Linked DNA regions of Homo sapiens: region 2 is linked to region 1. The links come from fine-mapping of genetic effects on gene expression. A gene starts in region 1. The other region holds a variant in brackets. All regions are shown on one strand. Distances are from middle to middle.

Region 1 (12,086 bases):
TCAATGTGAAAGGTAAAACTGGAAAGCTGACAGAATACAGAATATCTTTGTAATCTTGGGGTAAGGAAAAATATCTTATACTCTTAAAGTGCAACCTAAGGCAAAAATTAATGGACTGGGGCTATATCAAAACTAAAAATTTCTCAAAGTTACCATTGACAAAGTTGATAAACAGAAGACAGGATGAGATTAACATCTAGAATATACCAAAAAAATCTTCAAATCACCACATTAGGAAAAGCAAGTATGGCTAGTCAAAGAAATTATAATCACTAATGAATATATTAAAAGAGTTCAAATTTACTAAGAAATCATATAAGTTCACAAAAAGAAAACCCAATGAGATCCCACTTTACAGCCACCAAACATTGGTAAAACTAGAAAGTTGGTTAATAACAAATTTGAGTAAGAACGTGGGGAATCAGGAACCCTTGTGCACTGATGTGGAACAGAAAGCAGCTGAGCAACTCTGGAGAGTAATTTAGCAGTGTTTAGTAAAAACAGGTATGTTTGTACACCATTACTCAGCCATCCCACTCCTAAGTACATACCCTTAGAGCAGCGGTTCTCAAACTTTCCCATGTATCAGAATCTCCAACCTGGGCATGCTGAAACACAGTTCAGGGTTTCTGATTCAGGAATTCTGGAATGTTAGGACCCAAGAATCTGTATTTCTAACAGTTCAGAGTTGATGCCGATGCTGCCAGGTGTGGACCATACTTTAAGAACCACTACCCTAGGGATATTCTCAACCAGATCATTAAGAAAATGCACACAGACCCAGCTACTCAGGAGGCTGAGGTAGGAGAGTCTCTTGAGCCTAAGAGGCAGAGGCTGCAGTGAGCCAAGATCATGCCACTGCACACCTGCCTGGGCGACAGACCGAGACTCTGTCTCAAAAAAAAGAAAAAAAAGAAAGAAAATGCATACAGGATGTTTGCTAGTGGTAGCAGGAGTGGAGGTGAGTTAAGCATCCATCATTAGGGAAATGGGTAAGTAAAAGTAGGAGACACATAAAAGACCAGCCCTACAAAGCAGCAGTCAAGGCAACGCACTAGATAAACCTGCACTAACAAGGATCTCACAAATAAAATGTTAAGGTTCTTCTGACTTTTATGAATGCCTGCAAATTTCCATAATAAAAAGCTCTAATGTTGAATAAAAAAAGAATGAAATCTATAGCACAGAACCACTTATGTAAATCAAAAACAAACAAAGTAACTCAACATCTTTAACAAAATACATACATATGCAAGAACATATCCTGCACTGGAAAGAAGGCTCCTCTGGGGGAGAGGGGCCTGGGGGGTGCTGGGAGGGGAATGAAGGAGAAAAACGTAAAACAAGCAAGGGGCTTTTGCACAGTGAGAGGATCCTGTGCCAAGAACTGGAATGTGAGCTCAGCTCTCAGCACCAGGAGTCTAAAAGGTAAATCACCCAAATTATCTAAATCTCCACTCACCTGTCTGTACGTATAATGGTTGCTTCAGTTAAAGCCCTTGTGGCTTTACATCATTAAGGGAGTAGATCAGCTTGTCACTGAGAGTGGAGGGGAATCTTTCTCAATACAAGCTTGGGGTGATTTCAGGCCCCCAAAATCAAACCTGCTACTGAGTCCTGGATTTTCCCTTTGACATATTAGTTTAAAAAGACACTGGTGCTCTTGGCTTTTGGCAGAGTGTGTGTGTCTCTTTCTCTGTGTCTTTCTCTTCGCTGTCTGTGTGAGTCTCTGTGTCTGTGGATCTGTGTGTGATGTGTTTATCTGTGGAGATGGAGGACTGGGAGAACAGCAAAGCATTCCAGCAGGGCCTGAGCCAAACTTATTCATCAGCACCATTCAATGCAGCTTTACTGAATCCAGAAGTCAGTTATAAAACCAAGCTACCTTCCTGGGGCTCCGCCCACCCTTCTCTTTCCCTTTCTTCACTCTCTCCTCCCTGACATCCAATGCTGCCTCCCAACTCCCACATCCAAGTGGGCTGATCCAAAATAAGGTCCTCTTGTGACTGGGTAGCTTAATGGAGGTAACAACCTTTACAGGGATGCTCTTAGAGAGGAGAAATAGCCATTTATATTCCTGACCAAAAGCCTTTAATAGGAAAGCCAAAAATCTTGAAGACCAGCATGTCATAAAAGTTCCTCCAGAAGAGACTGTTATGGCTATAGCTACCATCCAAAAAAGGCATAGCCATCTATAACATGTTATGCCCCCACAAGGACACAAGAGCCACTGAATAGTTTGCCATATGAAGTGGTGGGAAAGTGTATATGGCAATCAAAAAATAAAAATCACCATTGATCAAATTTGTGTGAGAAAATGCAACAGATTCTTCTGACAGGATTGCTTTAAAAAGCAAGCTCATGCCAAGAAAGTACATCTTTAGGAGAAGAAGAAATACCTAAACAATTGGAGGAAGGAACAGACAGTGATGGTAAAGAGCAGAATGAACTGGCAGCACACTCATGCCTCCCTCCTAAAGACCAGGGCATTGATGCCTGTGTGCAAACAATCCAGAATTTTTATTCCCAAAATACTCTTTCAGCTTTTCTATAGCAGCACTTTTCAGAGTTTTCCTGAAATGTTATGTATAAAATGAAGTTTTCTAAGTTAAAGCATTTGACATCCAACAGGAGCACTTTTTAGTTAAAAATAATAATAATAATACTGCTAGGTGCAGTGACTCACACCTGTAATCGCAGCACTTTGAGAGGCCAAGGTGAGAGGATTACTTGAGCCCAGGAGTTTGGGACCAGCCTGGGCAACATAACAAAACCCTATCTCTATAAAAAAGTAGCTGGGCTTAGTGGTGCGTGCGTGTAGTCCCAGCTACTCGGGAGGCTGAGGTAAGAGAATCCCCTGAGCCTGGAGAGTTCAAAGCTACAGTAAGCCGAGATTGTACCACTGCACTCCATCCTGGGTGACAGAATAAAACCCTGTCTCAAAAGAAAAACAAACAAAAAAAAACTGATGGCTATACTTAGGAGTCAGGAGTCCGTTTGGTTTTCATGACGTATGTTAACAAAGCACACCATTTCTCTAGCTGAAATGTAGGATCTGCCCCAAGTTTGAAAATTAATAAATTTAACCAGAAAAGTAAAAGAATCAAGTTTTCAAGCTAAAATTGAATGTTTATGGTCAACCCAGCAATCATGTCTTACGAAAACATAAATATTCTTTAAATGTCAATGTGCAAAGGTATTGATGCATATATTTTACTCTAACCATATTAATACAGACTTAAAAATAGATGATGAACATGGTAAATACTGGTAAACTCTTCTGTTATGAAGAATTTTTAAAATTTCAGCTGCAGAGGCATGTATTGAATACAAGTTAGACACTGTGCAAGATGCTAGAAATCTTCCAATGAGTAAGATACTGGTTTAATAACCGTGTCCCTCTGATGTCAATTTAATACATCTCTGGAGTTAATGTCTTTTATTAAAAAGTTTCCGGAAATTTCAAATAGCTCACTATCATCACTGAAGAGTTGCAGAAATGTATCTTATTATTTTACTAAAAACATAAATTTCTATTCTGTGAAGCAGAAATGGAAGGAAAGGCCACTTCACTGTTTTTACATATCACTGTCACTTTCTGCAGAGTAACTACTTAAAACTGCATGGCGGCAGCAGCCACCCCACTGCTACCCAGCAGGTCACAGAGATGCAGAGACTCAAAAACATGCTATATATTGCTGTATATTTTAAGAGGCGCAGTAAGGAAACTCGAAATACCAGGGCCTCCAGAGCTAAACAGGAAGCAAGATAAGACAAGTGAGCTGCCACAGGCAGAAGGCAGCACCTGGAGGTTCCCCCAAAGCTGGCGCCTCCGACAGCAGGCACAGGCTGCTGCTTGCTTGCTTGCTTGCTTCTTTGCTTGGCCACGGCATGTCTTCAGAGCTGGAAGGCTGCCACCTGCTGAATCACCAAACATCCCTGGGCTTCCCTTGGAGCACTGACCAGACAGGCACCCATCCCCCGCAGCCTTCGCCCGTGGACGTTTCACACCCCGACCAATGAAACGCCCCGCCCTCTCCCCTTCTGCACAGGCCAAAACAGCCGCCAACCCCTTTCCATCTGGGCAGCTCTAGGCAACACCCATCGCGTTCCTACGTCACCAGTCCCACTCCTCTCCTTCGGCCCACTCAGTCCCCCCTGAATGTTTCAACCCCCAGTGCCAGGAAGCGTGGGGAGTTCACAGCACAGCACATCAGACATTCGCCACTTCCACATCCAGGGAGCCAACTAGAAACATCCCCAAACCTAAAAGCAAAATAACCTGTCCAAACAGCTTTAAAGGTCCAGGAAGATAAATGTCAAGGGAGCTAAAATAGTCGACAGGCCCCAGAACATAGAAAATAAACTTCCCTTTCAGAAAGCAGCCTTCACTTGGTTTCGTAAGCGTGTACCGCTGAAGTCTGTACTGTTTGAAGGTGAAAAGAAACATCTGAGAAGCACCTGCCTGGATTCTCTTCGCTCCCTCCGGCCATGACAACCCTTATCCCGATTTCTACTTCGCGGCACCAAAGAGGAAAGCAGCATTCACCAGAACGCTCCAGGCTGAATCCGTTAGCTGGACTAGGGCACTCTATCCGGCCCACGGGAGGACGCCACAAGCCCGAGTTCGGGTTAAGACGGTGGGAGAGGCAGCCGCTGCTGCTGCTGTTTTGCCCTTGACACGTCGCTGGGGGATAGCGCAGACCCCCTCTGTCACGGAAAAGCGGCGTCCTGGAGAGACTGTCCAGTTCTGGGCTGCGCCGATTCCCCTCCAGGCCTTGCCCCTAAACGTCCCCGCCCCGCGGGGGCAGCCCTGCGGGGTCTCAGAGCCGCCCGCGAGCCTGGCGGGCTGTTACGCGGCCTGGAGAGAAGGGGAGCGCTCCTCGGGGAGGGGGGGTCCCACCTGTTTTGTCGTCAGGGGGCATCGAGGGGCTACGGTGGGGGGATCCCGAAATAGTGGGCGCCTGGCCGGCTGCGATCTGGACCGAAGGTACCAACTGTCACACCGCCACCTAGGCTGTGGGGGTGGAGCCGTGATTGGAGTCGGCCCCTGGGTGGGGGTCTCCGGACCCCGGGCGGGCTACTGCCCAAAGGCTCCCCGCCTCCCGATCGCCCCAATCCGACACCAGGCAGCCTTCCAGCCCGCACGCAGTAGCTCTGAAAAGGTGCCCACTGACGCCTCCTCCTTCCTCCCCGCCCCAACTTAGCCGGGGAGCCCCGCCGGCGGCCCGCCCCCTCCGAGCCCGGATCCCGGCCGCCGGACCTCCCCGCTGTGACCACCCACGGGAGCAGCAGCTCTGGAGGACTGCCCGCCAGGTACGCGCGCGGCACCGCGCGGGCTGCGCTCACGCCCCCTCGCCCCAGAGCAGCCCGCCCGCTGCTCCCCGGCATAAGGCCGGGCCCGCGAGACAGGTGTCCGATCGGCCCCCGCAACCGTGAGGCCGGCTGTCTGTCCCTGCCCCACGACTCACTTGCACTGGAGTCACGGCAGCCGCCGGAATTCCGCTCGCGGAGCCCCCGCCGCGGAATGAAATCCGGGGCAGGGCAGCGTCGGGGCTCCGCACCCCAATCGCGCTCTCCGACCGGCTCCCTAGGCGCGAGGGGAGAGCAGTCAGCCCAGGCCGGTCCTTCTCACTCCCGACCTGCCCGCCGCCTGCCGCCCGCAGCCGCTGCCCCGCTGGTGCGAACGCTTTCGACTTGCCACCGCGAGCCTCCCGGGCTGCCGAGCATGCCCAGTCCGCTGCCCGAGCCGGCCCGGCTTCCCGCGCGACGCGACTCCGCTCCTCCGGGTGTTCACTGCGGCCGGGGGGGCGGGCCGGCCGGGCGGGGTCCGCGGGGGGCTCCTCCCGGGACCGAGCGGGACCCCGAACCAAGGGACAGTCGCAGTTTGGGCCCCTTGAATTTTACTTTCAAGTAATGGGAAACTGAGGAGGCGGGCGCTTTCCCCAGCGTTTTTAGGGGCCCACTAAGTAAGGCCTAGCGGGAGCCAGATTTTACAATCTGGGACGGTAAATCCCTTGGGGCAGGGCCGGAGACGGGAGCCGCTAGAGCTGGTCACAAAGCAGGGAACGCAAACTCAGCCTGCTGGAAGCCAGGCACGAGTTTGCGAACTACTACTGGATTCTTTTTCCCACCAAGCCCAAGGGCTGCGACACTTGGGATTAATGCCCAATGGATCATTCCTAGGAAACGGCCGACCTGACTATTCGGCCCATTTTCAAACCTCTAACCATAGACTCTCATCTTTCTCCCACAACAGAAAAAAAAAGCCTCTGGCGACGCCTGGGAGCGCGACGGAGGCGCAAGAGCTCTAACCGCGCGAGGTGAAAACTCCGACTGCGTCAGAGCCGCCCCGCCCCGCCTGGGGCCCACCTTCCGCCGCCCCTCCGAGCTGCGGCGAAAACCCGGAGAGCGGCTAGGCCGGGGTCGGAGCCCGCGCATGCCCAGTAGCCCCACGTGGTGCAAGTCGCCTGAAGGAAGGTTTTCCTCTGCTCCCCGAGCGAAGCCCCAGCGCCCAAGTTAGGATGGACAGCGGGGAGAGCTGGCCTTCCCGCCCCGATGCCCGCCGTCCCTGGCCGGCCCGCGCCGCACCTCGGTGGCCTACAGGCAGCCCGAGGCCGTGCCTCCCGCGGGGTCGGGGACTTGGCGAGCGGGGGAAGGGGCGCGGCTACGGGCCCGGCGTACCACGTGACTGTCCGCGGCGCTCCGGGCAGCCATCTTCCGCCCGGCCATCGGGCCGCGGGCGCTCGGAACCGACCTGGGAGCTGGCGGGACCGTCCTCCCCCGCCACGCCCTCCCATCGGGCTTTGGGCGCCGGACTCTGGCCACCGCTCGGCACCTGCCTCCGCCTCGCCTTGGGGTATAGGAGTCCTGTACCGACCCCTGGCTTGCCCAGAGGACAGGTTCTCGCCCGGGCCAGAAGCAAACTGCGGCGAAATCGAGACAACAGAACTCAGGTGGCGGAGGGTCCCCGCTTTTCCCCAGAGGCGGAAGTTGGCGAGGGAGTCCTCTTCCGTTATCCAGCGAGAGCGCTGCTCTGGCTGCCTCCCGGTTCTAACCTAGTCCCTGCAGAGGAGTGATGTACCGGCAGGGACATTGGACAGAGGCCGTGCTCTTCCCTGCAGCGCATACCCCGCGGCCCCTGCTGGTGGGCCGCTTCGATGGTGCTGAGGTTCATAGTGAATATTTATTGAGCGCCTGCCTCGAGTCCCTTGGGTTTCCTGTTGTCTCGGGACCTGCCGCGTCACTATCACCCTAGAATTTGTTAGAAATGCACGTTTTCGGCCCCACCTAGACCTACAGAACCAGAAACTGCGGGTGGAGTCCTGCAATATGATTAACAAAGCCCTCCGGGTAGTTGTCATGGACGCCTCTATATTTCAGCTAAGCAGTCCATTTTAATAAGCTAGGCAGTGAAAATTTCCATAGTTTTCCCCAAAGCACAGTGAGGAGTCAGGGATTCAAAATGAGGCAATCTGCCCCAATGCAGGCGTTTTATTGCACCCTCCACTCCTGGCTCCTCTGGTTTTTTCGCCCGTAAGACACAGTACTGCTCTTCTCAGGAAGATTAGGAAAGTACATTTGTCACATACGCTTTTCAAGCACGGCTTTAAAATAACAACTGAAATTCAGTTCAACTGCATGTTTTGAGTATCTACTGGGAGCAAGGCTCTGTGAAGTATAGTAGCCCTACTGGTTATGTTTATCAGTTTGCACCTAAAAGGTGAAAGGAAGGCTTGCTTTCTTGTGATGTAAATTTTTTCAAACTAAGGGAGTGCCAGAAAACTGCTGGCTGCTTTCTCTCCCGTGTTGGTTTCTCTCCAGTGCTATCCAGAATATGCTGTAAGCTCTGGACTTCCTGAAACAAAGGTCCAAGTAAGCATCTGGTCTTTGATGTACTTTAAAATGCACCCCACCCCCACATGAAAGATAACTAAATTTTTCAAAATATTAATACTTCTTGAATGTAAATCGTGTGTCTAAGGTACTGGCATAATTTTTTTTTTCAAATTTTCTATATGTTTGAAATGTTTCATAATAAAATCCTTTTAAATTTTTTTCCATGTGTAATTTTAGGATGATATATATATAGCACATGGAAAAAAGCAGGGCATAGAAGTATTTCCACTTTAATTTCAGTTTCATAAAATCAGAGAGAAAAAGTCATAGATATATACACCATACATAAAAAATAAAAGCGTAAATAAATACAGAAAGAAATCTAAAGAGAAATCACCATAGCAGTAAAAGTAAATTCTGTGTGAAGTGGTTATAAGAGACACTAAGAGTTGCCCCTCCTTGAAATTATATTTAGTTATGGTCCTTAAGTCACTATTATTTGTAACCAAAAAAAAAAATTGAATAAAAATAGTTCTCCCTCTTTAGTCCATCCAATCCTAAAGAATTTTTATCAGTGCCCTTTCTTTTTCTTCAGAGTCACTCTGTCACCCAGGCTGGAGTGCAGTGGCACCATCACAGCTCCCTGCAGCCTTGACTTACAGGGCTCCAGTGATCCTCCACCCTCAGCCTCCTGAGTATCTGAGACCACAGGTGCAAGCCACCATGCCCAGGTAATTTTTTATTTTTGGCCGAGGCTGTTTCATCATGTTGCCCAAACTGGCCTTGAACCCCTGAGCTCAAGTAATCCACAGGCCTCCGCTTCCCAAAGTGCTGAGATTACAAGCATGAGCCACTGTGCCTTGCTTACCAGTGTATTTCTTAGGAAAATTTTAATAAACATCATATTGTTGGATTGTAAAATTTTTGGATTCTCAAGTACTCAGAATATCATGAATTACGTTGCTGTCAAGACAACTAGGAAACAAAAGTGAATCACCTCCAAGTCACAATCTGTCATTAGAAATCTTGTTAAAAATAATACTAAGAGCAAATACTGAAGCAAATGCTTCACTTACCAAAACAGCTATTCTGAAGTAGGTGGTTTGGTTCCAAATGAATGACTTTTCTACCTTTAGAAGGTAAACTACCTGATTTAAAATGTGGTTTTATTCAGTGGACCTTTCAGCAGTAGCCATCACTCACCATTGAGAAGGTGGGCTTCTCTCACCACCTTAATCTCTGTAGGTCTCTTTCACCCTCTAGCATACATCTTACTAAGGCATCTAAAGTACTTACTACTTCGTACTCATGGGATCCAATGATGCTCACATAATGTCATCAATAGAGTGGACCAGTGTGATGTTTTGTGGAATGTCAGAACAATCAAGATCACTTCAGACTATTATGGCAGTGAGCAAGAGAACTAATGGAGCCCGTGGCAACACTGGGAAGACATATTGTTGGCCCTGTTGGGTAACAGCAAATCACTTCTGATGGACCTTGCAAATTGGTATGGAGGAAAAGGCATTAGCCAGGTAAATAAGTGCATACCAAATGTCAGATCTGCCCCAGGTGCATACCAATGTGTTAATCTGCCCCAGTAAAGGTACTACTTCTGGGAGAGCAGCTGAAATTGGAGTCCCCATCTGATTACATTTATGACATTCCACAGTCATTCTTCAAGATCCATTTGTCTTCTGCACAGTCTAAACTGGGGAATTAAATGGGAGATACTATAGGTATCACTACCAACCACCTGTAGTCAAAGTTCAAATAGTGCTCTGGAAGCAAGGAGACTTTTGTTTCTATCCATGGAAATTTGTCTCAATGTGATCCAGAGCCACGTAGCCTGAATAACAGGAGCAAGACCTTAGGAGCCCCTGCTTAGCTCTTTAAACTCTTCTGGCCAACCTGGGTTCCAAACCAAGGCTAACCAAAAAAGCTAGTCGAAGACAACAAAGGTCATTCCAAGTATTGGCCCCGAGGCTTAGATCTGATAATACTCAACATTCTGTGCTCATTCCTGTGTACCTGGCTAGGATTCCTGGCTTCAATAACTGCTTGGCTTCTATTCATTGACAAAAAACTTGGAATTTATTTGAAGATACCAGGGTAGATCAGGGATGCAGCTGAGCCTCGGGATGAGATGGAAACCAGGAACTGGAGTATTGAAAGGAACCCAGAAAGTCTCCCTCTGTCTCCTCTGCATTTCTATTTATTCTCTCCCTGTGGTTTCTGGCTTTTTTCCTTCAGTTCCATGAAATGACCACTTGAGAGCTCCCAAGTTTTTAATCTCTTCCAGAGAGTAACAAGAACAACCCTACCTATATTCATTAACCCTCTTGTCTAGTTGAATCCTATTTCCCCAGATTCCCACTGGCCACTTAATCTTACTAATATTTCAAGGTCCATCTCCAATTTCACCTTTTTTTGTATACAAATGTTCATAACAGCTTTATTTATAACAGCCCCAAACTGGAAACAACCCAAGTGTTCATCGGTAGGTCAATGGACAAATCTGTTCAATGAAGTGGTACTCAGCAATGAAAAACACAAAAACAAAAACTCTTGACAAATGCTACCACATGGATGGATCTCAAAATAATTATACTGAGTAAAATAAGGCTGACCAAAAAACGGATACATATTGTATGATTCAATTTACATAGAATTCTAGGACATGCAAACTAATAATGGGGCAAAAGGGCACTTGGGGATGATGGGTCTGATTTTCACCTTGATCGCAGTGATAGTTTTACGCAGGGTATACATATGCCAACACACTGTACACTTTAGATATGTGCAGTTTATCAGCGGTCAAGTATACCTCAGTAAAGCTAAAATAAAAATATTAATGGGCTCCACATTCTGGAGACACTGGCAGTAGAACTATTATTTTCAGCTTGAAATATTAGCTACACTTTGGTAAAAATACTTTTGAATTTTATCTTCACAGTTGTAGCAAGGAAACCAAAAGGTATAAACATTCACTGATTGAAAAACAATGTCATAAAGTCATCCCAGTATCTGTGAGGAGTTGGTTCCAGGACCCCTGAGGACACCAAAATCCTCAGATGCTCAAGTCCCTGATAAAAAAATAAAAGGTACAGTATTTGCGTATAACCTCCCCATATCCTCCTGTACACTTTAAATCATCACAAGATTACTTATATTACCCAATACAATGTAAATGCTGTGGGAATAGTTACACTGTATTATTTAGAGAATAATAAGAAAAAAAGTCTGTACATGTTTGGTACAGATGCAGTTTTTTCTTAAAAATTGTTGATCAGCAGTTGGTTGAATCCACAGATGTGGAACCCACAAATACAGCAGGCTGACTGTATATACTAAGAAAAATTACAAAGTGAAAATGAGGAATTCTCATTCTGTAAATGAAACCAAATCTAACACATTTCTCAACAATGAATAAAACCACTTAAGAGTCAAATATTTGGTGTCTGACAGCCATCTCTCTCCTGCATGTTGATGTGGTCTACAGCAGTGGTGCCCTCGGGTTCAAAAACCTGAACGGTGGTCTTCAGTTGTTCCCCCAAGCTCCTCTATCAGAGGCCCAGACACTCCAAGAGGCTGGGAAGAGGCAAGTGGCTTTCCCTGACTGGCATCAGACTCCTGGATGGCTGTGTTTCTGCATACTCCACCATCAACAATCAGAAGGGCACTGCTTTCTTCAAGAAGGGGACCTTGCAAAGAACTGTCTCAGATGGACTATCTTTGAGTTCATCTTGTTCTGAATGTGAGTCTGAGTCTTTGTTTCCAGATGACACAGTGCTGTCTGAGTCCTCTGAATCACCTGCCTCAGAGCTGCAGCAAAGTTTCTGCTGCCCAGAAACTGAATGGGCTGCTTGTAATGCAGATTCTTCCTCCTGGACAAGAAGTGCTGCTGCTTCTAGTTCTTCCAGTTCTAACCCCAACTGGGCCTTTGTAAGGGAGACTTCCTTTAAGGCTTCTGCAAGAGCTGCCAACGTTTTGGATTTGACTTTCTGAGTCCACACACAGTAGTATGAGATGTAGAGATCATTCAGTATGTATGCTGGGTCGTTTTCCTGAAAAATTTTGTGAATATCCAGGAGACACTTTAAAACTGCACTTTTACTTAATTGCAGTATCTTTATAGTCTCCCCGTAGGCCTTCATCGCCAGTTTGAAATGGCGATAGAGCAGGTAACACAATACCCTTCTTCCAAAAGACACCATGATATCATGAACATTAGTCCAAGTCTCAAA
Region 2 (12,086 bases), 28 kb after region 1:
TATTTTTTAAAGGCCTAAATAAAAAGAGACTGCCCAGACTACCTGCTGGAATGAACGACTCAGAAATAAAAGATCTGGGGGCTTTTAGAGGCAGCAACTATTACGAATTCACAAGGGTAGTGAGAAATCTGTGGAGATGGTGGGACACAAATTAGACATTGATGGGATGGAAATTTTTCATTGTTAATTTTTCATTAACAATTCAAACTATCTGCATATTTGGTTTCACACAAACTGAAATTCTAGATGATTGACTTATTACACCTATGACAAATCGGATTTTAGGTTTTTGTTGTTTTTGCTTTAAGAAGATGCAGTCTTGGAAAAAATGGAGAAAATAGTTCCTCAGAGACAGAGACTTATTGAAGTCAGGAGATAGGAAGTTAATTTTGAGTAGTTTCAATCCATTTAGACAAGACAATCTACAATGGTTTGAATATTTGTCCCATCCAAAACTCATGTTGAAATTGAACCAACAATATGGCAGTATTGAGAAAGGGGCCTTTAAGAGGTGATGGGTTGTGAGGGGTCTACCATTAATGGATTAATGGCTTAATGGGTTTATGGACTATGGATGATCATGGAAGTGGGACTCGTGGCCTTATAAGAAGAGGAAGAGAGACCCAAGCTAGCACACTCAGCCCCCTTGCCATGTAATGCCCTTTGCCAAAGGGGGACTCTGCACAGAGTCCTCACCAGCAAGAAGGCCCTCACCAGTTGGTGTCCCTCAATCTTGGACTTCTCAGCCTCCGTAACTATAAGAAATAAATTCTTTTTCTTTATAAATTGCCCATTCTCAGCTATTCTGTTATAAGCTACAGAAAATGAACTAAAACACTATCCTTTTAACCTGAGCTTTAATAAATGTTAACTCTTGCTGCCCTTTTCCTAACTTTGTACATGAATAACTTCTTTGTAATACCCCATAGCTTCTCTCCAGACTTGGCTTCTTCCAAGACTGCTGACCCCAGGATTTAAAAGCCTATCTTCATCTGTAATCCCCACATTCTGGGAGGCCAAGGCAGTCCAATCACCTGAGGTCAGGGGTTCAAGACCAGCCTGGCCAACATGGTGAAACCCTGTCTCTTCTAAAAATACAAAAAGTTAGCCAGGCATCGTGGTGCATGCTTGTAATCTCAGCTACTTGGGAGGCTGAGGCACGAGAATCACTTGACCCTGGGAGGTGGAGGTTGCAGTGAGCTGAGATCACGCCACTGCATTTTCCAACCTAGGTGACAGAGTGAGACTCCGCCTCAAAAAAAAAAAAAAAAAAAAAAAAAGAGAAAAAAAAATAAAAGCCTATCTTATTCTCTTCTCCTTTCAGCATGGTCATTGCCTCTAATTCAGAGCCTCCTTTTTTACTCTTTGCAGTCTGGCAGCTGCCACTACCAACCTGATAACATTGCTCCCTGGAGGAGACGTTGAGGACCATTTCCCCAGAAATGTGAGCTAAAACCAAACTGCTAAAAGACATTTTTTGCTGGGTGTTGTGGCTCATTTCTGTAATCCCAGCACTTTGGGAAGCTGAGGCAGATGGATTGCTTGAGCCCAGGAGTTTGAAACCAGCCTGGGCAACATAGTAAGACCCTGTCTCTACTAAAAATAAAAATAATAAAAAAGGACATTAGCTGGGTGTGGTAGTGTGCCCCTGGAGTCCCAGCTATTTGGGAGGCTGAGGTAGGAGGATTGTTTGGGCTTGGAGGGTGAGGCTGCAGTAAGCTATGATTGCACCACTGCACTCCAGCCTGGGCAGCAGAGTGAGACCCCATATCAAAAAATAAATAAATAAAAATAAAAGACATTTTTAAGATATGTAATGAAGGGAGATGGTTGGGGAGGAGAGGAAGACAAAAGATACAACTCCGGGGGATGGTGGAGGTTTACCAAGAGGAGAAACCAGCAAGACACACAGTGGGAACAACCATGAGGGAAGAGGTGACTGAGGGACTGTATTGTTACTGCAGCCTCGGAAGCAGCAAACATAAAAAAGTTACCCTTTCTGCCCCACCCAAGCTCAGAGCCTCCTCACTGATTTTCCTACTCCCAGGCCCTCCCAGTGCCACTGTGGTTCACACTGAGCACTGGTCCTGGGGTCCTAGCAGTCATCATTTTACACAATTTGATCCTGTTCAGCTCTTCTGGTTTTGTCTCTCTTTCTTTCCTTCTTCTGAAAGTCTAGCTGGAGAAAATAACTCTCCATACCCCGGAACACACACCGCGTTTTCCCATCTTTAGCTCTCTGCTCACTAATGACTTCCCCTCTAATGTCCATCCCCATCATATCATCTCCACCCACCCAAGTCCTACCCATAAAAGGAGAAAAAAAAAAAGAAAAAAAGAAGCAGAGTCTCATTCCATCTCCCAGGCCAGAGTACAATGGTGCAATCACAGCTCACTGTGGCCTTGACATCCTGGGCTCAAGCTATCCTCCTACCTCAGCCTCCTGAGTAGACGGGACCACAGGCAGGCACCATGCCTGGCTAAATTTTTTTTTTCTTTTTAGACAGAGTTTCACTCTGTTGCCCAGGCTGGAATGCAGTGGCTTGATCTTGGCTCACTGCAACCTCTGCTTCACAAGTTCAAGTGATTCTTGTGCCTCAGCTTCCTGGGTAGCTAGGACTACAGGTGTGCTCCACCATGCGTGGCTAATTTTTTTGTATTTTTACTAGAGATGGGGTTTCCCCCATGTTGGCCAGGCTGGTCTTGAACTCCTGACCTCAAGTGATCCACCCACCTTTGCCTCCCAAAGTGCTGGGATTACAGGCGTGAGCTACTACACCCAGCCCAATTTTTTAAAATATTTTTTTGTAGAGACAGGGTTGTTATGTTGCCCAGGCTGGTCTTAAACTCCTGGGCTCAAGCAATCCTCCCACTTCTGCCTCCGAAAGTGGTGGGATTGCTGGTGTGTGCCACCGTGCCCAGCCCCAGCTCAACTCCGTAATGGGTAAATGAATAACCAAATGATGGCTCCAGTACAATCTTGATCACAGTCACACGGCCTCAATTCTCAGTATGATCTGAAATCTGCCCATAGTGCTGCACTTTGAACAGATCAGCAGCACAGATTTTTCACTGATACCCACAGAAATTACCATAGTTTAGATTATCAGATGTCTAAAGGAACATACGTCCTCATAGTTCCCACACCCAAACACATTTTTTTGCACATACAGCAGTTATCAAAAAGTGCCCCAGACTTTTCTCCTGAGCTACAAATATACAATGCCCTGCCTGCCCTCCTATCCTTAGCTCTATATTTTCAGTTCTTTCTCTCTCATTTATTGATTTTAACACCTTTCTTGCTCTGGTTTATGTGATATTATCTTGTAGGGAATTAAGTAGATGCTTCCAATTAGATTCATTACAAGTTCCCTTAAGAAGCGATTAGGAAGGTAAGAGTCCCAAGCGGCTGGTTCCCTCAGTAATACCAGCAGCATTTTTAGGGTGCATGCCAATATCAGACCAGGTTTTAAGTGCCACATTACTCCTTTATCACCAAGGGATCCTTGGAAGCTTGCAAAACTGAGTGCAGCTGAGCATAAAGTAGTGTTTTATTGAATGCCTTATGTGGCAATTACAAAGAAAACAGAAATATGAATCCCTCATCAAAAGGCAGTTTAGGAGGGGTAGTCAATCAGTGCATGGACCCTGTAGTCTAATGGTACTGGCTTTAAATTCCAGTGCCAGCTATAGGATTTTGGAAAATTACTTAACTTCTCTGAGCCTGTTTTCTCATCTGCTAAATGGGGGTAATGGTATAGTAATAGCGCTTTGGGGAGAATTAAATTAATTAAATTAAATTAAATTAATTCAGCACAATACTTGGTACATAGAGTTCAAATAAATGGCAGCTATTATCATTACCATGAAAATTAAAATTCCAGTGAATCACATGACCTGCCTTCCATTTCCAAAACTACGACCTTTTAGTTGCTAAGTTATTTGTGAAGTCTATGGGCTTTAAGAAAGATGGCAAGAAGGGAAAGAGGGAAAAGGGAAGAAGTTTTCCTATTTTCCATGGGTCAGGTTTTCATTGCTACTGAACTCTTTATACAAGCATAATAGAGATAATATTTTGAAAATATTAATAGTTTTCTTTCCCTTTAGAAAACTGCAAACTCCACCTCCTGGGTTCAAGCAATTCTTCTGCCTCCAGAGTAGCTGGGATTGCGGCATGCACCACCACGCCCAGCTAATTTTTGTATTTTTAGTAGAGACAGGATTTTGCCATATTGGCCAGGCTGGTCTCAAACTCCTGGCCTCAAGTGATCTGCCCGCTTCGGCCTCCGTAAGTGCCGGGATTACAGTTGTGAGCCATCATGCCCAGCCATTCTATCCCCTTCTTTATATCTGGTTCTACTATTCAACTAATATAGCCTAAATACCTCCTTATTGGGGATAGAGGAAAACCTGATATAGAAGCAGTTCTTCCTGTTGGCCTGGTGGATTGTGGGAAAAATAACAGAAGGCAAATTGTAGCAAAAGCAAGTGGGCAGACACTTGTGTCCTGGCTTGCCTCCTCCGGGCCACAGTCTGGAAGAGGAAAGAAGAGGATATGGTACATAAACTGGGGGAGAGCCAGATGCAAAAGCAGAGGGGGCTTGTGCCCCAGTCCTAGCTCAGAACTCTGAGAAGAGACTGTGGTGTAGAATGGCTTACACCAACCTGGTGCTACCACAGAACAAGGAAGGCGGCAGAGAGGCATGGTTCCACAGAAAGAGGGCCTGTGTTCCCACTCCTAAACTTGCCTTTCCTCTTAAAAGGCATAGAAGGGCTCCAGAAGTTCCCAGACTCCCCCTGTAGAACCAGACAAGGTAGGTAACAGAATTGGCAGCTTCAGGACCTGCTATAATGGAGCCTCTGTAGTTAGGGGTGAGATAACACTAACGTCAAGGCCAGGGGCTAGAGAGAGGACCTGGCTGAACTCGGTGGCATCTGCAGTCCTGGCAAATGTAAGGTAGGGTGGGTCTAACTGAGCCTAGGAACAACACTGCACTTGGGGAAGACCACTGTAAGGCTGTGGGAACCTGACTGGATCAGCCACTTCAGAGCAGAGGCAGGAGATAGGATAGGCCCTGCACTCATATCAAGGCTCATCTCCCCCTACAGTGGGATCCACATGCCCAAACACCATCTGGTAGAGAAGTAGGGAATGAACAAAGGGGATATTGGAAAGATAGCTAATCTACCCTGTGTGGAAAAGAATGAACTTTGCACAAAGAGAAGTTAGGCCTTTGCTTCTGAGAGTATTTTAAGCCTTTGTAATGTCCTGCCTGATAAGATGGGGTTACCTGGCAGCCTAAGACCATGCCAGATAGTCTATGCTAATAATGTGATTATGGTGGGGCTTTAGGCCTTGCAATATCAACCCAACCTCTGGAAGGCTGGAAGCTAAGGTGGTCAATGGGTGGTCAACCATATCTACTGGTAGTCAACCATATCTATGTAACCAAGCCCCAGTTAAAAACTCTGGACACCAAGGCCCAAGTGAGTTTCCCTGGCTGGCAATACTCTGTGCGTATTGCCCAACATCATTGCTGGGAGGAATTAGCACTGTCTAGAGTTCCACTGTGATAGGACAACTAGAAGCTTGCACTTGCAACTCTCCTGGACCCTGCCCCATCATGCCTCTTCCCTTTGCTGATTTTCATTTCTTACTTTTCACTGTAATAAACCATAACTGCGAGTATAACAGTTTTCAGTGAGTTCTATCAATTATTGAACCTGAGGGTTGTCCTGGGGGACTCCTGATTTCCACAAACCCCAAAGAGACTGGGCCAACTGGAGTGAGTAAAGAAAGATTGCATCCATTAGAGCAAATCAAGAAGCCTCATTGTCTTATAGAATTTCAGTGGTGCTTTGTAAATATGTGACCCTACTACTCAAGCAAGTAAAGACTTCTTACCACTCCAAATAAGGCATGGATGAAGGAATCACAGCTAGCTAGT[C/CT]TTTTTTTTTTTCAAACTAAAGAAGGGGACATGTGTACTGCCTTCAAACATTACAAAGCTATCGTATAAGAAAGGAACTAGAATTAGTGTTTGTCTAGCTGAAGGGTTATATAAAGCCCGGCTGGTGGAAGTTATAGAGGGCCAGGTTTCAGTTTAAGCACAAACTTAGTGACAACCAGAGGCCTCTAAAAAACACAAGCAGCTAACTCAAAGATAGCTGAGTTCCTCATCACCAGAGATCTTAGAGGCCAATGACCCCTTGTACTGAGATTGTGTATAGAATGAAAGTTGACTCAAACATCCTTTAAGTTACATTCCAAGCTGAAAGCCTGTGATTGAGAAGTAAGATAATGTGGCCAAATGTGAACAGTTGGTGGTGAGTCTACATATGGATGTTTATTCTTTCAACTTCTCTGTAGGTATGAAATTTTTAAAAAATTGGAAGCAAACAAAAAAGGAAAAAGAAACATTTTGGAAACTACCTGGTGGCTGGAAATTCTCAGTCATTTCTAAAAATAAACAGAAATTTATTTTCTCACAATTTAGGATTAGAGTCAAGGATAATGAGTATTGCGTCTGATGAAAATATGTGTTGGTTCCCACATTTTACCACTACCGGCACAGCTACGTTTTTAGTCCTTTTATATTTAGCAATTTCAATGGACTGAATTGTGTCCTGTTAAAATTCATGTGTTGAAACCCTAATTCCCAAGGTGACTGCATTTGGAGATAGGGCCTTTAAGAGGCCATTAAGATTTAAATAAGTCATAAGAGTAAGGCTCTAATTTGATAGGATTGGTAATCTTGTAAGAAGTGTCAGAGAGCGAGGCAGGATAGGGGAGAAAGAGGAAGACAGAAAGAGAAGGGGATAGAGAGAGAGAGAGAGATCTCTTCCCACCCTTTGAGAACACAGTGAGAAGGCAGCCATCTGCAAGCCAGGGAAAGAGTCCTCACCTGACACTGCTGCCAGACCTTGCTCTTGGACTTTCCAGCTTCAAGAACCATGAAAAAAAATAAATGTCTATTGTTTACGTTACTCCATCTATAGTATTTTGTTATGGCAGCCCTAGCACACTAAGACAATGACCTTTTAATGACTTATTGACTTATTTCCTGCCTGTGTAATATTATTCATATTACTATGGCTCTTATATACAATTAGGTATATACTTAAACCTTAGTATATTTATAGAAACAGACAAAGCATTAACAGTGCATTTCTGAAGATGTTTTTCAGATGCACTATCACGCAAGCACACAAGACAGCAGGTGATAGTGCCAGCAATTACTGCAGGATTGACTCCAAATCCCATCATCCTGGGAGGAACTGGCAAGAGAAGATCATGAAACTTGTCAATAGCATTGCTACTATACGAAATAAGAATGACCCAGATAGTTGATGAAACCAAGATTAGGATTTGCTGTAAACACTAGTGTCTGTACATATATTAATGTCTGAGGAGATAGGGTTGGAATTTTACAAATCATATTCGTTCAGAATTGTAAACATACAAAACGATTTTCCTGCTCTCTACTGGAGCAGCACCATCTGCTGGACCCACTCAAAATGCAAATTCTCCAACCCTGATGGAACTAAGCAAAGTCAGCAGCCTCCTCTACCTGCTCCTTTTCTGGACCCTAACATCCCCCTTCTTGTTTCCTGACACTGGCTGACACTTCCTTCCTGTGCTCATAAATATAGATTAGCTATTTATATTTCTTGTTTCCATTATGTTTCCTGCAGCTTTGTTCCCCGTGTATAATGTATGTTAGGAGAATGAATGTGAGGAATCTCTGTCAGGAGGTTTTTAATAAAAAAGGTCGTCTTTAATTTTGCAGAGAAGAACCTTGAAAGGGGAAGCTATTTCAAGGGTGTAGTCCTCCTTAAGCTCAGTTCTTTTCCCAAATACAGTGTGTGTGTGTGTGTGTGTGTGTGTGTGTGTGTGTGTGTTATCACTTGCCTAGTTTCCTGTCTCTATTTCTAACCTGTTGACCTCTAAGCTCCAAATTTCCCTCCTCCGACCTTTTCCTCTTTCCTCTTTCTCCTTTCTGGCTCCGCAGACTCTGAGGCTAAACCTGTTCTTAGCCAGAAGATGTGTAACAAGCTCCACACTCAATGCTAATCTATTGCTGATTCAGCCCTTGCCTTTACCCTGGTTCTAGCAGATTCTTACTGAACGCACTTCCCATACTCAACCCTCAGTTCCCTTAGTGAACTTTGCCTGTTTAACCTAATGCCTGAGTGCCTTCCTTAATTATCTGCCCAGATCCTCCATTTTTTTGTGGCTCTCATGGGGGAAAATGTTGGGAGAACAATTTGAATAAAAGAACATGCCAAGATTGCTGGGAGATGGTTGAAAAAAAATCAGTGATGGTGTGTAACACCATAACACAGCATTGAACTCCCTGGAGAGCCAACTCCAAGATGGAGACCAATGTGTAGGAGGTTTATTAGGGTGTTCCCATGTGGTCAACACCCATGGAAAGAAAGCAGGATGGAGCAGAGCTAGTAGTTGAACTGCAGCACAGCCTCAAAGCCTCAGGCGATCCTTCAGGGAGTTCTAAAAATAAGATAACCCTTCCAAGGTGACTTGACTGGGGACAAGAGAGGTCTCAACCTTCATACCTCTTGTCGATCAGCCACTGGCTGTGGGCCTCCAGCAGGGGCTGTGACCTCAGGCAAAGAGTCTATCTGCAACTAAGGCAGGGGCTGTGACCTCAGGCAAAGAGTCTATCTGCAACTAAGGCAATGCCCCAACGGAAGTGACCCAGAGAGCTATCATCTAGCAGCAAGGAAAGTAAGTCCTCAGGAGACTTGGTCTTTCCTAAAGGAGAATAAGTCTTTCCTGAAGAGACATCTGGGCAGTGCATCCCAGTGTTCCCTACCCTTATGTCATCTCACCTCCAGGAAGTACCATTACTTCCTCTGCCTAGTACACAACATATTTTATTTTTCATCTCACTCTCAATCTGGAAGTGATTCCAAACCCCAATTCCAAACACTAGAAGGATTAACCCCTCTTGCGACAAGCAGCCCCAGAAGAAGGTGCACAGACAGTGCTGAGCAGCACAGGGAGTAGTTGAGGAGAACACAGTGAAAGGAAAGCAGAACCTGTTCCATGGGGGTGAAGAACCAGAAGCCAAAATTTCACAGAGCATACGCATGAAAGACAAGATACCATGGATAGAGTGAACTTGGAATAGGTAGCAATGGAGACCTTCCCACAACTGCGAAATGATTGGCCAGGAGTCAATGACCTAGAATATAATAATCAAAAACCATGAATGACAGAAGAGAAAACCAGACCAGAAAATATATGAACAGAAACCATCCTCCTAGCCAAGCTAGTCTAAGGGCTTTCCCCAGTTTTCTTAAGAAAAAAAGAGAGAGAGAGAATTTTATAACTTTCCTTGTTCTACAAATGATTTGCTTTGGTAGATCCTTAGTGAGTAGGAAGAGAAAATGTATACCAGAACCCTCTTGCTTATCTGAAATGACTCCTGGTAAATATTGGACATAATACTCTTCCTACATCATTGACATAGATATCATATACACACATAGATATATATATCGGCATGTAGATATTTATATAGATATACATGTATAGATATCTGCATATATATATTTGTATACAGATATAGACATATAAATATTAATATACCTATATATGTATATAAATACATATACATATCTATATCTGTAGAAGATATCTACCATCTTCTATCTATATATCTTCTATCTTCTATCTATAGAACTATCTTAATTTAAAAACCTTTCATATATGCATATAAAAGGTAATCAAACACAAGCCAAATGAAAATTTGTTTAGCTATGTTAATATCAGACAAAAGAGATTTTAAGGCAGAAATTATTACCTGAAAGGAAGATGTATCCATCATCCATATAAAAGAATCAACTATTGAGGAAGTTGTCAAACTTGTGTATGTATATTCACTCACACAGAGTTAACACACATTTACAATTTTTATAGAACTAAAAGGAGCAATAGCCGCATCTTTGATCATAAAGACTTTAATATACCTTTTTCAATAACTGATAGCAAAAAGGATACAAAATATCAATAATAATACAAAAATTTAAAGCAGTAGGATTAAATACTTTGATATAAAAACTGCACCCAAAAATAGCAAAACACACAATTTATTATAATGTATTTGGAACGTGTTTCAAAATTTACCATAGCTATCTATAGATATCTCTGTCTATCTAGGTAGATAGATGATAGATAGATAGATAGATAGGTAGGTAGATAGATAGATAGATAGGTTAGATAGACAGATATAGGCTGAGGTTAGGCCCATAACAAGAATCAATAAATACCAAAAATTTGAAATCCTTGACAGTGTTTTTTTGTACAACAATGTTATTAAGCTGCAAATCTATAGCAAGACTTTGAAAGTAACCAAATGTTTAGAAATTAAGCATCACATTTCTAAGTTATTCATGCATCAAAAAAGTAATTACAATGAATATTAAAATATATTTTGAATTTAATAAAAATGAAAGTAAAAATACTGCTTGTTAAAAGATGGGAGGCTTAGGCAAACCTCAGCTTGGAGATAAATGCATATGCTTGTTTAAAAAATTAAAGCTTGAAAATTAATAATCTAATTGTCAATCTCAAAAATTTAAAATGTGATGTCAAATTAAATCCAAAGAATTAGAAAAGAGAAGATACATAAGAAGCATGAGAAAAGGAAACAATCATAAAATAAATGAAATCAGCAAAAGCCAAAGTTACTTTGAAAAGACTGATAAAAATATACCATGATTATGCGTGAAATTAAAAAAAAAAAGAGTATCCACAAATTCTAAATATCATCAATAATAACAAGGAAATCATTATAGATTCTATAGTCATGGGATAGAAAAAGAGAATGTAATAAGTAACTTTAAGTCAAAAATTTTGACATAATTTGATGAAATAGATACATTTCTAGAAAATCATTAACAGTGACACAAGAATAAATAGCAAATCCGAATAGCTCTATATCTATTAAAAATAAAATTACAATTAAAGCTTTCCAAATATAGTGAGTCTAAATCAAATAAAATATTAAAAATCTGAAATGTTTCCAGGAAGAAACATTGAATTCCTAATATAAAATATAACATAGCATATGCAATCCCTTTACTGAAAATTGTGAGATTTTACTGAGAGAAATTAAAGATATTCAACAGAAATAAAGGTGTACCATGTTCCTATGTCATTCTTGGTATTAGAAGAAAGATTCAGTATTTTAAATAAATCTATATTTGTAATACACTGAAAATCACAATACTGTGATTAGTAATAGCATAATTTGTCTGCATTATATTTGGTGGCAACTGAAAAACTGACTATAAAATGCAAATGAAAATGCAGTGTATAGATAACTTTGAAGAAAAAATATAATGTGAAGACTTACACTATTAGATATAAAGTTTTTATAAATGTATATCAATTATGACATTATGGAAAAGGTGCAAGTATAGATATTTCAATGAAACAGAATAGAGAGCTCATAAAGAGAACCACACAATATATTTAGCTGATTTGTGAAAAAAATAGTGCTTCAGTACAATGAGGAAAAGATTCATTTTCAATAAATTGTGGTGTCTTTCATACATCGGTACAGAGAAAAATGAATATTAACATCCAACCTCACAACATACACAAAAATTATTTCATATAGAAGCCAATGTGTAACATAAAACAGTACAGTTTTTAAAAAGTAATACAGAGGACACTTCTATGACCTTAAGATTTAAAAAAAGACTCAAAAAGTAACTATTGAAGGCTAGTAAATAAGATAAATAGGTTAATAAATAGTAATAAAATAACATAAAAAATAGGGATTTGTAATCATAAAATAACTCACTGAGTGAAAAGGCAAGCAACAGAATGGGAAATGAAATTTGCAAACATAAATACAATAAGAACTCTTGATCGAAAGATACTTTTTAAACTCTACAAATGAATTTTTTGAAAAAAAAAAAAAATATGGCCAGGTACGGTGTCTCACGCCATTAATCCCAGCACTTTGGGAGGACCACTTGAGCCCGAGAATTTGAGACTTGTCTGGGCAACACAGTGAGAGACCTCTGCCTCTACAAAAAATTTAAAAGATTAG

Alleles and levels. Positions count from the first base shown, and alleles are read on the strand shown. Sizes are in standard deviations (SD) of each study's normalised expression.
For the expression in neutrophils of the gene that starts at base 5,721 in region 1, allele CT in region 2 goes with a higher level than allele C (large effect, 0.86 SD a copy in BLUEPRINT).

What was found. PIP is the estimated chance that this variant, and not a neighbour inherited with it, causes the effect.
Region 2: its variant is fine-mapped to the expression of SGMS1 in neutrophils (BLUEPRINT, PIP 0.95).

What each region holds. Positions count from the first base shown.
Region 1 is chr10:50,618,236-50,630,321 of GRCh38, forward strand. SGMS1 (sphingomyelin synthase 1) reads right to left here and starts at 5,721. Exons shown (of 11, transcript NM_147156.4): 1 at 5,472-5,721. SGMS1-AS1 (SGMS1 antisense RNA 1) reads left to right here and starts at 6,716. Exons shown (of 4, transcript NR_126411.1): 1 at 6,716-6,956; 2 at 8,435-8,570; 3 at 10,796-10,943; 4 at 11,342-12,086. It also overlaps the pseudogene SHQ1P1. RefSeq lists enhancers at 3,769-3,928, 4,479-4,878, 5,590-6,118 and silencers at 5,069-5,408, 5,669-5,928, 5,977-6,134, 6,259-6,888.
Region 2 is chr10:50,645,869-50,657,954 of GRCh38, forward strand. No RefSeq gene overlaps it. Among named protein-coding and RNA genes, the nearest start is that of SGMS1-AS1, 27 kb to the left of the region's middle. RefSeq lists enhancers at 2,580-2,739, 2,760-2,909, 3,120-3,179. The variant C/CT (reference allele first, on the strand shown) is at 5,949.